Linked DNA regions of Homo sapiens: region 2 is linked to region 1. A link means that fine-mapping ties the variant in region 1 to the expression of a gene that starts in the linked region. Tissue or cell type: monocytes after LPS. Region 1 holds a variant in brackets; the other region holds the start of a gene. All regions are shown on one strand. Distances are between the middles of the regions.

Region 1 (4,352 bases):
CCGGCCTCTCATCAACCGAAACTGAAAGCCTTTGGAATTCTCTCCACCATTTCACCACTGCACTCTTGAGTCCTCTTGATTCTATCCCCAGATTATTCTTACATGTATTCCCTCTTGTCCAGCACATTAATTGAGGTTCTCAGACTGAGTTATTCTAACTGCCTTTTAACTAATCTCTCTGACTCCAAGACCTCATTATCAAGCCAGCCTTTGCACTGCTACAAAACTAACCTCCCTAAAACACAGGTTACACTATGGCCCTCTCTTCCTTTCTGGGCATATCCTTATAACGCAGGGAATAAAATACAAAATTCTAGCATGCTATTCAAGGCCACCTCAAGTCTTGACAATGCTTTGTGAGCCCAACCTCTGGAAAATGAAAAATACATAGAAGAAAAATAAATTTATAAAATAAGCTGGATATAGTTCATAAAATCTGTGTCCAAAAATCTACTGCAAAAAGTGTTTTGTGTGTGTGCATACAAATATAAATTTAGATAGATAGAGATATGTATATGACACACAATGTTATAAATGGTTAAGATTTCTAGACAAGCCCATACAAATCTATTTGATGTATAATTTGTAAACAAACTACTGTGCATGTGCAACAAAATTACTCTGCAATGCCGATAAATAAAATAGGAAAACCATTAAAATTTAAAATAATTTTTAAGAAATATATCTTGACCACTGACCCTTGAGATGACAAGATGGACAGATGACTCCATTTGTCTTTATAGCTAACATTTACACTGTGCTTACAATATGCCAGGCCATATTCTAAGAGCTTTACAAGCAATAGCTTTACAAGTATTTGATCTCACAACAACCTTATAAAATAGATACTATTTCTCCATTTTGTAAACAAGGAAACTGAGGCATGGGGTAATTAACTTGCCCAAAGTCACATGCAAACTGGTAAAGGTGGGATTTGAATTCAGACAGCTTGGTTCCGAAGTTACCACTGCTTAAATTAGCACAGCCATTATGGAAAACAGTATTAAAGTTCCTCAAAAAATTAAGCATAGAACTACCATGTGATCCAACAATGTCACTACTAGGTATATATACAAAGGAAATGAAATCAGTAAATTGAAGAGATATCTGCACTCCCATGTTTACTACAGCATTATTGACAATTGCCAAGATATGGAATCAATCTAAGTGTTCAACAATGGATGAATATGGATAAAGAAAATGTGATATATATATATGTATATATATACCACAATGGAATACTATTCAGCCGTAAGAAATAACGAAATCCTGCCATTTGCAACAACATGGATGAATCTGGAAAACATGTTAAGTGAAGTAAGCCAGACATAGAAAGACAAACACAACACGTTCTCACTCATATGCAGAATTTTTAAAAATTGATCTCTGGCTAGATGCAGTGGCTCAGGCCTGTAACCCTAGCAATTTGGGAAGCCGAGGCGGGTGGATCACCTGAAGTCAGAAGTTTGAGACCAGCCTGACCAACATGGTGAAACCCCATCTCTACTAAAAATACAAAATTAGCCAGGCATGGTGGCACATGCCTGTAAACCCAGCTACTGGGGAGGCTGAGGCAGGAGAATTGCTTGAACCCAGAGATAGACGTTGCAGTGAGCCAAGATTGTGCCACTGCACTCTAGACTGGATGACAAGAGTGAGATTCTGTCTCAAAAAATAAATCAATCAATAAATAATTATAAAAATAAAGATAACCAAAGTTTCCACATTTAATGACAATTCTATCTTGAGAGCCACTGTAGAGTTACCAGGAGGAGCTAGAGCTGGTTAATGGTGGAGAATGTGCAGGAAGTGTCTAAAACTGTCAGGGCTAGACTGGCTGGGGAACAAAACTGGGTAGTCAGGATTGGGTATTGGGTACATGATGTTTTACTGAGGTAGTTTTAGTGCCAGTGATATTTCAGTGTTCAGACTTAATTCATTACTGTAAAGAATAAATTATTAAATTTTCAGCTTTTAAAAAATCATCAAATAATCTGTGTAGATAATCTCCTTAATGTCAGGATGAAATGAGGGTCAGATGAGGAATTCAGGAATGGGGCTGGACACAGAGATGTGGTGAGAGATGGTGAAGCTTATGAATGGGGTAAGGTTGTTACCCATGTCATTTGTTCATTTTTTAAAAGTGATAACCAATTTCTCTGAGTCTAAGATCTCCTAATCAAGCCAGCCCTTGCACGGCTACAAAACTAACCTCCCTAAAACACAGGTGAGACTATGGCACTCTCTTCCTTTCTGGGCTGCTCCTTATTGGCTTGATTTTTAGGGTCCAGTATATCCAAAGTGTCAAAACAAAAATGTATTACTTCAGAGGGACATGCAGGAGGAAGAGGTTAAGCACTGAGTGCTAACCACAGTCTGCCTTGGGCAGAAGCAGAAAGAAGCCTCAGGCCAAATGATAGAAGGGAAGTCGCTTTCTGTTTTTGTTGCCGGAAAGGGCAAAGAATCAAAACACCACTTTCGCAATGAATGAT[C/T]TTACAAAATTGCAATAACTGTGACAAGACCTGAAAGACAAAACGCATTTTTGAAACATCTTCATGCAGTATCTTTTTGCTTTGAAGTATTTCCCATTTGAAAATTGGGATTGTTTGATGATGTACCATCATCTCTGGTATCAAGACAAATACCAAGACAAATCTTGGTAGATCAAGACAAATAAAATATTGTGAGAAAATTGGGATACAGAACCAGGTTCAAATCCAGGCTTTACCACGTATCAGCTGTGTGTTTTTAGGCAAATCTTAACCTCGCTGAATCTCAGTTCTTTCATTAATTAAAGGGGAATAATTTTACTACCTGAGCCTTAGGATTGTTAGAGTGCCTCAGACAGTCAGCATTCAGTAAATATTCAAATATTCATCAAATAGCAACAGTGGTTAGTGGGATTACAGTTGATTATTTATTTTAGGTCTCTGTATTTCTTAGATTGTCTACCATGAGTATATGTTGTTTTTGTAATTAGAAAGAAAAATAAAACTTATTCTTTTTAAAAATGAAGGCCGGAGGGCTGGATACAGTGGCTCATGCCTGTAATCCCAGCACTTGGGGAGGCCAAGGCAGGAGGATCACTTGAGCCCAGGAGTTGGAGAGCAGCCTGGGCAACATGGGAAAACCCTATCTCTATCAAAAATACAAAAATTAGCCAGGCATGGTGGTGTATGCCTATAATCCCAGCTACTTGGGAGGCTGAGGTGGGAGGATGGTTTGAACCCAGGAGGCGGAGGTTGCAGTGAGCCGAGATCGCACCACTGCACTCCAGCCTGGGCAACAGAGCCACACCTTGTCTCAAAAAAAAGGCCTGGTGTGGTCACTCATGCCTGTAATCCCAGTGCTTTAAAAGGCCAAGGAGGATCGCTTGAGGCCAGAAGTTCAAAACCAGCCTGGGGAATGTAGTGAGACCTCGTCTCTACAAAAAATGGAAAAACAAAAAAAAATTTAACTGGGTGTGGTAGCACACGCTTGTAGTCCTAGCTATGTAGAAAGCTGAAGCAGGAGGATCTTTGGAGCCCAGGAGTTTGAGGCTGCAGTGAGCCATAATCATGCCACTGCACTACTGCCTGGGCAACAGAGCAAGACTCTGTCTCAAAAAAATAATAATAATAAAAATTAAAGACGAGGGGCATAATTTCTCATATTTTTACATTTGCTCTCCCCACCCTTGTCTCTTTTATGTCTCTTTCTGCTGTTATAAAGAGTGCATGCTGTCTATGCAGCGATATTCAGAAGGCATCATAGAATGACAGTCATTCTCTATTCTCCAGCACAGTGCTTTTGGGGTCAGCTGACTCTACCCAGGCCTGCAGTACTGAAATGAGGCTCAGATCAGGGTGGTGTCTGTGTCCACGGGAGATCTGTTCTCTCGATTACATATCGATTCCCATCCTACCATTTCCTCAGTTTGACACTAAGCTGGATGCTCCCAGCCATCCCCAGTCCTCAGACAACTGTATTTTTTCCCTCTAGTTTTATTTATTCGGCACCAAGGCCTAGTGGCACCGACATGGCTGCAGGAGTCAAGCCTGCAGTTGGTCTTTGAAAAACAGGGAGAGTGTGGGCGAGTGCATTAAAGGAAGCAAAGCTCTGGCAGCAAACCAGCTTCTAATCTTGACGCCACCCCTGGTTCTCTTCTTTTCTTTATCATTTTAGGCTTGTGGGTCCCAGATCTCCATATTTGCCTTCTGGAACTGCTTTAGCAATAAGAAAAAAGATGGATGAGGGAATTAGGGCCGAGTTACTCCAGCCCCATGAAGCACTCCAGCACCAGGAAGCATAACCTGAGGCTCCATCACGTTTGGAGCTGCCTGCCTTGCAGTGGCCCATCCCTCTCATGCAGA
Region 2 (4,000 bases), 70 kb before region 1:
TTTCAGGGCATGCTCACTCTTGCTTCAAACAGTAAAACAAAGTAACTTTCATGTATGATGAAAGTCAGTCAGACTAATGTGTCCAGTCATTTAAAAAGGGAACTTACTTATCGTGACTATTGCCCTATTTTTCCCTGAAAAGTTTCAGGTCTAAGCTCCATTGGCTTGAGTGATCCAATGAGCTTTGTACCCTGGGGTAAAAGAGCGCAAAGAAAAAGGAGGGTATTACAGGTGACTTCCAGGTTAGAAAAAAGTTACGAGGAGTTAGCTCTACTAATTGTATCTACGTTAGCGAATGGACGAATACTATGTCGTGTAAGAGAAGCTAAAGCTAGTTCCTCAAAAGGTAACTGGCATAATTAAAACATCCAAACTCAAGCATCATCAAACATCATTTTGCCAATTTTTTTAAGGGATGTATGTTATTTGTAAGTAAATTTATTAATCCATTTGGAATTCCAACAGTCTACGCTTAACACTCAAGCTTCTGAATTCAAGCCGCCAGAATTAACAGTTCCAGGAACTGATAAGAGTATCAGCAAAATGCCTTTTTCCATATCCCCATGTGAAAAGCTGGGGGGCAGAGCTGACAGTCACAAACTCACCCCAGTCAAAAGTATGGACAACACAACGATTAAATTCCACCAGAGGCAAATAAAAATCCCAACTTTCCAGAAAGCTTTCCCTACACCAAATTGAATCCTTTTACTTTCACTCCCACAAAGAAGGTAATCTGAAATAAAAGTCGGGTAACTGGGTATGGTATTTAAAATGAGTCGAAGAAACTACACTGAAGCTACTATAGAGGCGATGAAAAGGTAACCCAAAAGCAGGAGGGAAGGTGGAACAGAAAGCCAGGAAGGGATGGGCGAAGCAGCTAGTGGAGCAAAGGAAGTGGGGGATCCCTTCCAGGGAGGCAGCCCGGAGGGATAACAAGGATCTGGATGCAAGGAACCAGGCGTTTACTGAAACCCGAAGGAGGCTGATGAAGAAACAATGGGGCTTGGAGACGCTCAGACGAGGGCGACGAGGCGGCACCGGACGGGTGGGAAGGAAGAGCAGAAGGCTGCAGTGGAGACGGGTAGGGGGTGAGAAGCCAGGTGGGGAAGCAAGTTGGTTGGGTATGATGGGGTGTGGTAGCGCACCGGGCAGGGAGACGAGGGTCCCCTAGGAATAGGGAGGGGAGTGGCTTGTCAGATTTTGAGACGGGGAGCGGAGGCCGTGAAGGCAGGTGTGATGGAAGCAAAAGAACACAGCTCAACGGGCACAGGACCGGCCGTGCCAGAGAAGACGCAGGGAGGGAAGAGGCAGTAGAAGGGTGAAAGACAAGAGAGAGAGAGAAGGACGCGCGCGGGTCGCGCGGGCGCCGGGGAGCGGGGGCCGCGGTCGGCTTCACTCACAGTCCAGGTGCTTTTTCTTGGGCCCCATGATCTCGTGGGTCGTGGCCTTGCATACTGTCTTGGATACGGCAGAGCCGGTGACACTGTGCTGGGCGGCAGTGATTCGGTCCGTCAGGCTCTGGCCGGACATCTCTGCAGCTCCTCCACCACCCCACCCGCTCAGCAGCCGGCGGGGACTGGGACCCCCAAGAGCCGGAGGGTCCCCACCCCCCACCGCACCCCCTACCCCCACCGGCTCCTTCCCCGCCTGCCGGCCTGGGGCGCGGTTCGGGGCCGCGCGCTGCCACCAGTCCAGAGAGAACCGGCTCGTGTCACCCGCGGAGTCGGACAAGATGTCGGGCACTCCCTTGCCCCCGCCTCAGTTCAGCCCACCCCTTCCCGGGTCAGCTGGAGCCGGGCAGGGTAAGAGGAACAGGCAGCTGCAGGAAAATGGCGGCGCCAGGCTCCTCCTCGGAGCTTTCCGGGCTGCCCCGGGTCACGTGACTCGGACACCGCCCCTCCTCCCTTCTCCCGCCCCTTTCCCCTTCCCTTTCCTCTTCGACGCCCGCCCTCCCTCGCTCAGCGAGGGAAGAGCTGGGCGGCGCCCGCGCGTTACGTGATGGAACTCGCCAGGCGGGCGCAACAGGAGGCCCGCCCGAGGGGAGTGCACAGCCGGCGCATCACGTGACTCTCCCTGCCAACAGGTCGCCTGAGGCTCGGCCCGCGGGGTCACAGACGCCGGGCGGGGCGGGGCGGGAGAGGAATGGCGAGGGCGGTGTGCTGGCGGGGGTGGGGCGGGGCGGCAGGCTTCTCCCCTTATCCCCCCACCTCAAGTGTGTCCTCGTGTCTGTGGTTGAAACCAACAGCTTGACAAAGGAGGTGCAGCTGCCTTCACAGCTTCCCCTGAAGTGGGGGGTATTAGGCCTCTGGCTCCCCGAGCTTTCCCAGCAGAGTCAAGAATGTATTTCAAGACGCCTCCCAAAGCCGCCCTCCTGGCTTAAAGGAGAAGGTTCCAAACGGCCTATTTTCTGAACCTTCCAGCAGGCCTCTCTCTACCATGGAACTATTGAAGCTCTCCTTATTTACTTACCCCAGAAAGGTTTTTTCCCCCCTTTCCTTGAGAGGCTTGGAAATGTCACCTGGTTTTGTTTATCTCTACTCCGAAAACCCGACACGTTGCTGCCATTCTAAATTTAGATACTAGCTGGCCGGTATTCATTCTCTAGGGTGTGGAATAGGACAGGAAACACATAGCTTCACTGGAATTTGAAAAGGGAAGTAGTAGGATGATGTCAACAGCGATTAGCTTGACCCTACATGGCTGACTGCTGTGGTGATTAAAGGTCCAGACCATAGAAGGAAGTGAGAGGGGCGGTAAATGGAGAAGTCCCATTCAAACAGTCCAGACATCACTGCCTGCCATCTCCCCTGGTTTAGTCTTTCTTACCTTTGGCCTCTTTTCTCTTATTGGGTGAGCCAGATTTCCATGGAAAGACGTTGACACTGCCCTGTGGACATTTTAAAAGAAGTATTACATCCTGAAATACTATTCAATGAGACCCAGACCATACATTAACAAAGCCTTTTATATGTTATTAGAGCCTCTACATTCAACCCAGGGTTAGGGATAAGTTGAAAAATATGTGAGTGCTAAGTTACCATGATAGTCACATGTAATCTTGCTAGTTTCAAATGAAATGCTAACATTCTCAGAAAGTCTGTGTACACCATCTGCCAGCCAAATCCAAAATACTGTGCTTCAATCTGGTGACTCTCAAAGGATGCAAAGCTGATAGATATTTAACATTTTATGTATCATATCAGGAATTTTGTGGTCTCCCATTTTCCCCACGCCCCCTCACCCCTCTTTTTTCCCCACTATGGCTGGTGAAATTCTGCAGCAACATGCTCTTGCCAAGAACACACAAGTTTTTAATCCCAGCAGGCTTCATCTTTGTCAAGCCAGCCTCCAATTTCACAAAACTATAATGAATTCCTTCAGTGTACTGCAATCCATCTGTGGTTTGGTGCCCAGTTTGCTGCCCCACGTCCACTGGGCAGTGGAATTACCAAATTCTCAAGACATGTTATCAGCCATCATTGCTACTGGTCTATGGGTTCCACTGTATAAGTTACTGATTGGCCTGAGCCTCTGCATTGGTAAACCCCAATCTGAGGTCAACACTAACATGGTCTAGCTATCAACAGCTGAATATTTTATCCTTAGGGAAAATGCCAGTCATTCCTAAGTACATAACAGGAAAGTATTACACTATTACTTTTACCAAAGAGGTTCTTTCAGACCACTTTTGTGACAATAATTGTTGACATGTTTACCCTATTAACAAACAAGCTGCTGTTAGAAATATTTTATTTTTTTCCAAGTATACATAGTAGAATTTCTAACTATGTAAATAATCAGTAATCATTGAAGAGGTTTATGTGTGGTTGTGAACTGAAATATATGGAGAAATTTAAAAGAAGATGGGGAATTGTTCTAAGGGTAGACATTACTGACCTATGTTGTCTTATATGCTTAAGTTTTCTGTGTCAGTTTCCTTGGTCTATTCAGGAAATATCTCTACCTGAAGTTCCACAGATGCCAACTCACCATGGCCAAT

Evidence for each region. PIP is the estimated chance that this variant, and not a neighbour inherited with it, causes the effect.
Region 2: it holds the start of PICALM, and the variant in region 1 is fine-mapped to the expression of PICALM in monocytes after LPS (Quach 2016, PIP 0.95). The same link has a PIP of 0.9 or more in monocytes.

Annotation. Positions count from the first base shown.
Region 1 is chr11:86,136,709-86,141,060 of GRCh38, forward strand. No RefSeq gene overlaps it. Among named protein-coding and RNA genes, the nearest start is that of LINC02695, 55 kb to the right of the region's middle. The variant C/T (reference allele first, on the strand shown) is at 2,493.
Region 2 is chr11:86,067,251-86,071,250 of GRCh38, forward strand. PICALM (phosphatidylinositol binding clathrin assembly protein) reads right to left here and starts at 1,834. Exons shown (of 20, transcript NM_007166.4): 1 at 1,401-1,834. The coding sequence starts at 1,530. LOC124902731 (a long non-coding RNA gene) reads left to right here and starts at 2,674. Exons shown (of 2, transcript XR_007062823.1): 1 at 2,674-4,000. RefSeq lists enhancers at 480-1,182, 1,183-1,884, 1,624-2,823 and silencers at 1,449-1,498, 1,569-1,618, 1,759-1,928, 2,079-2,348.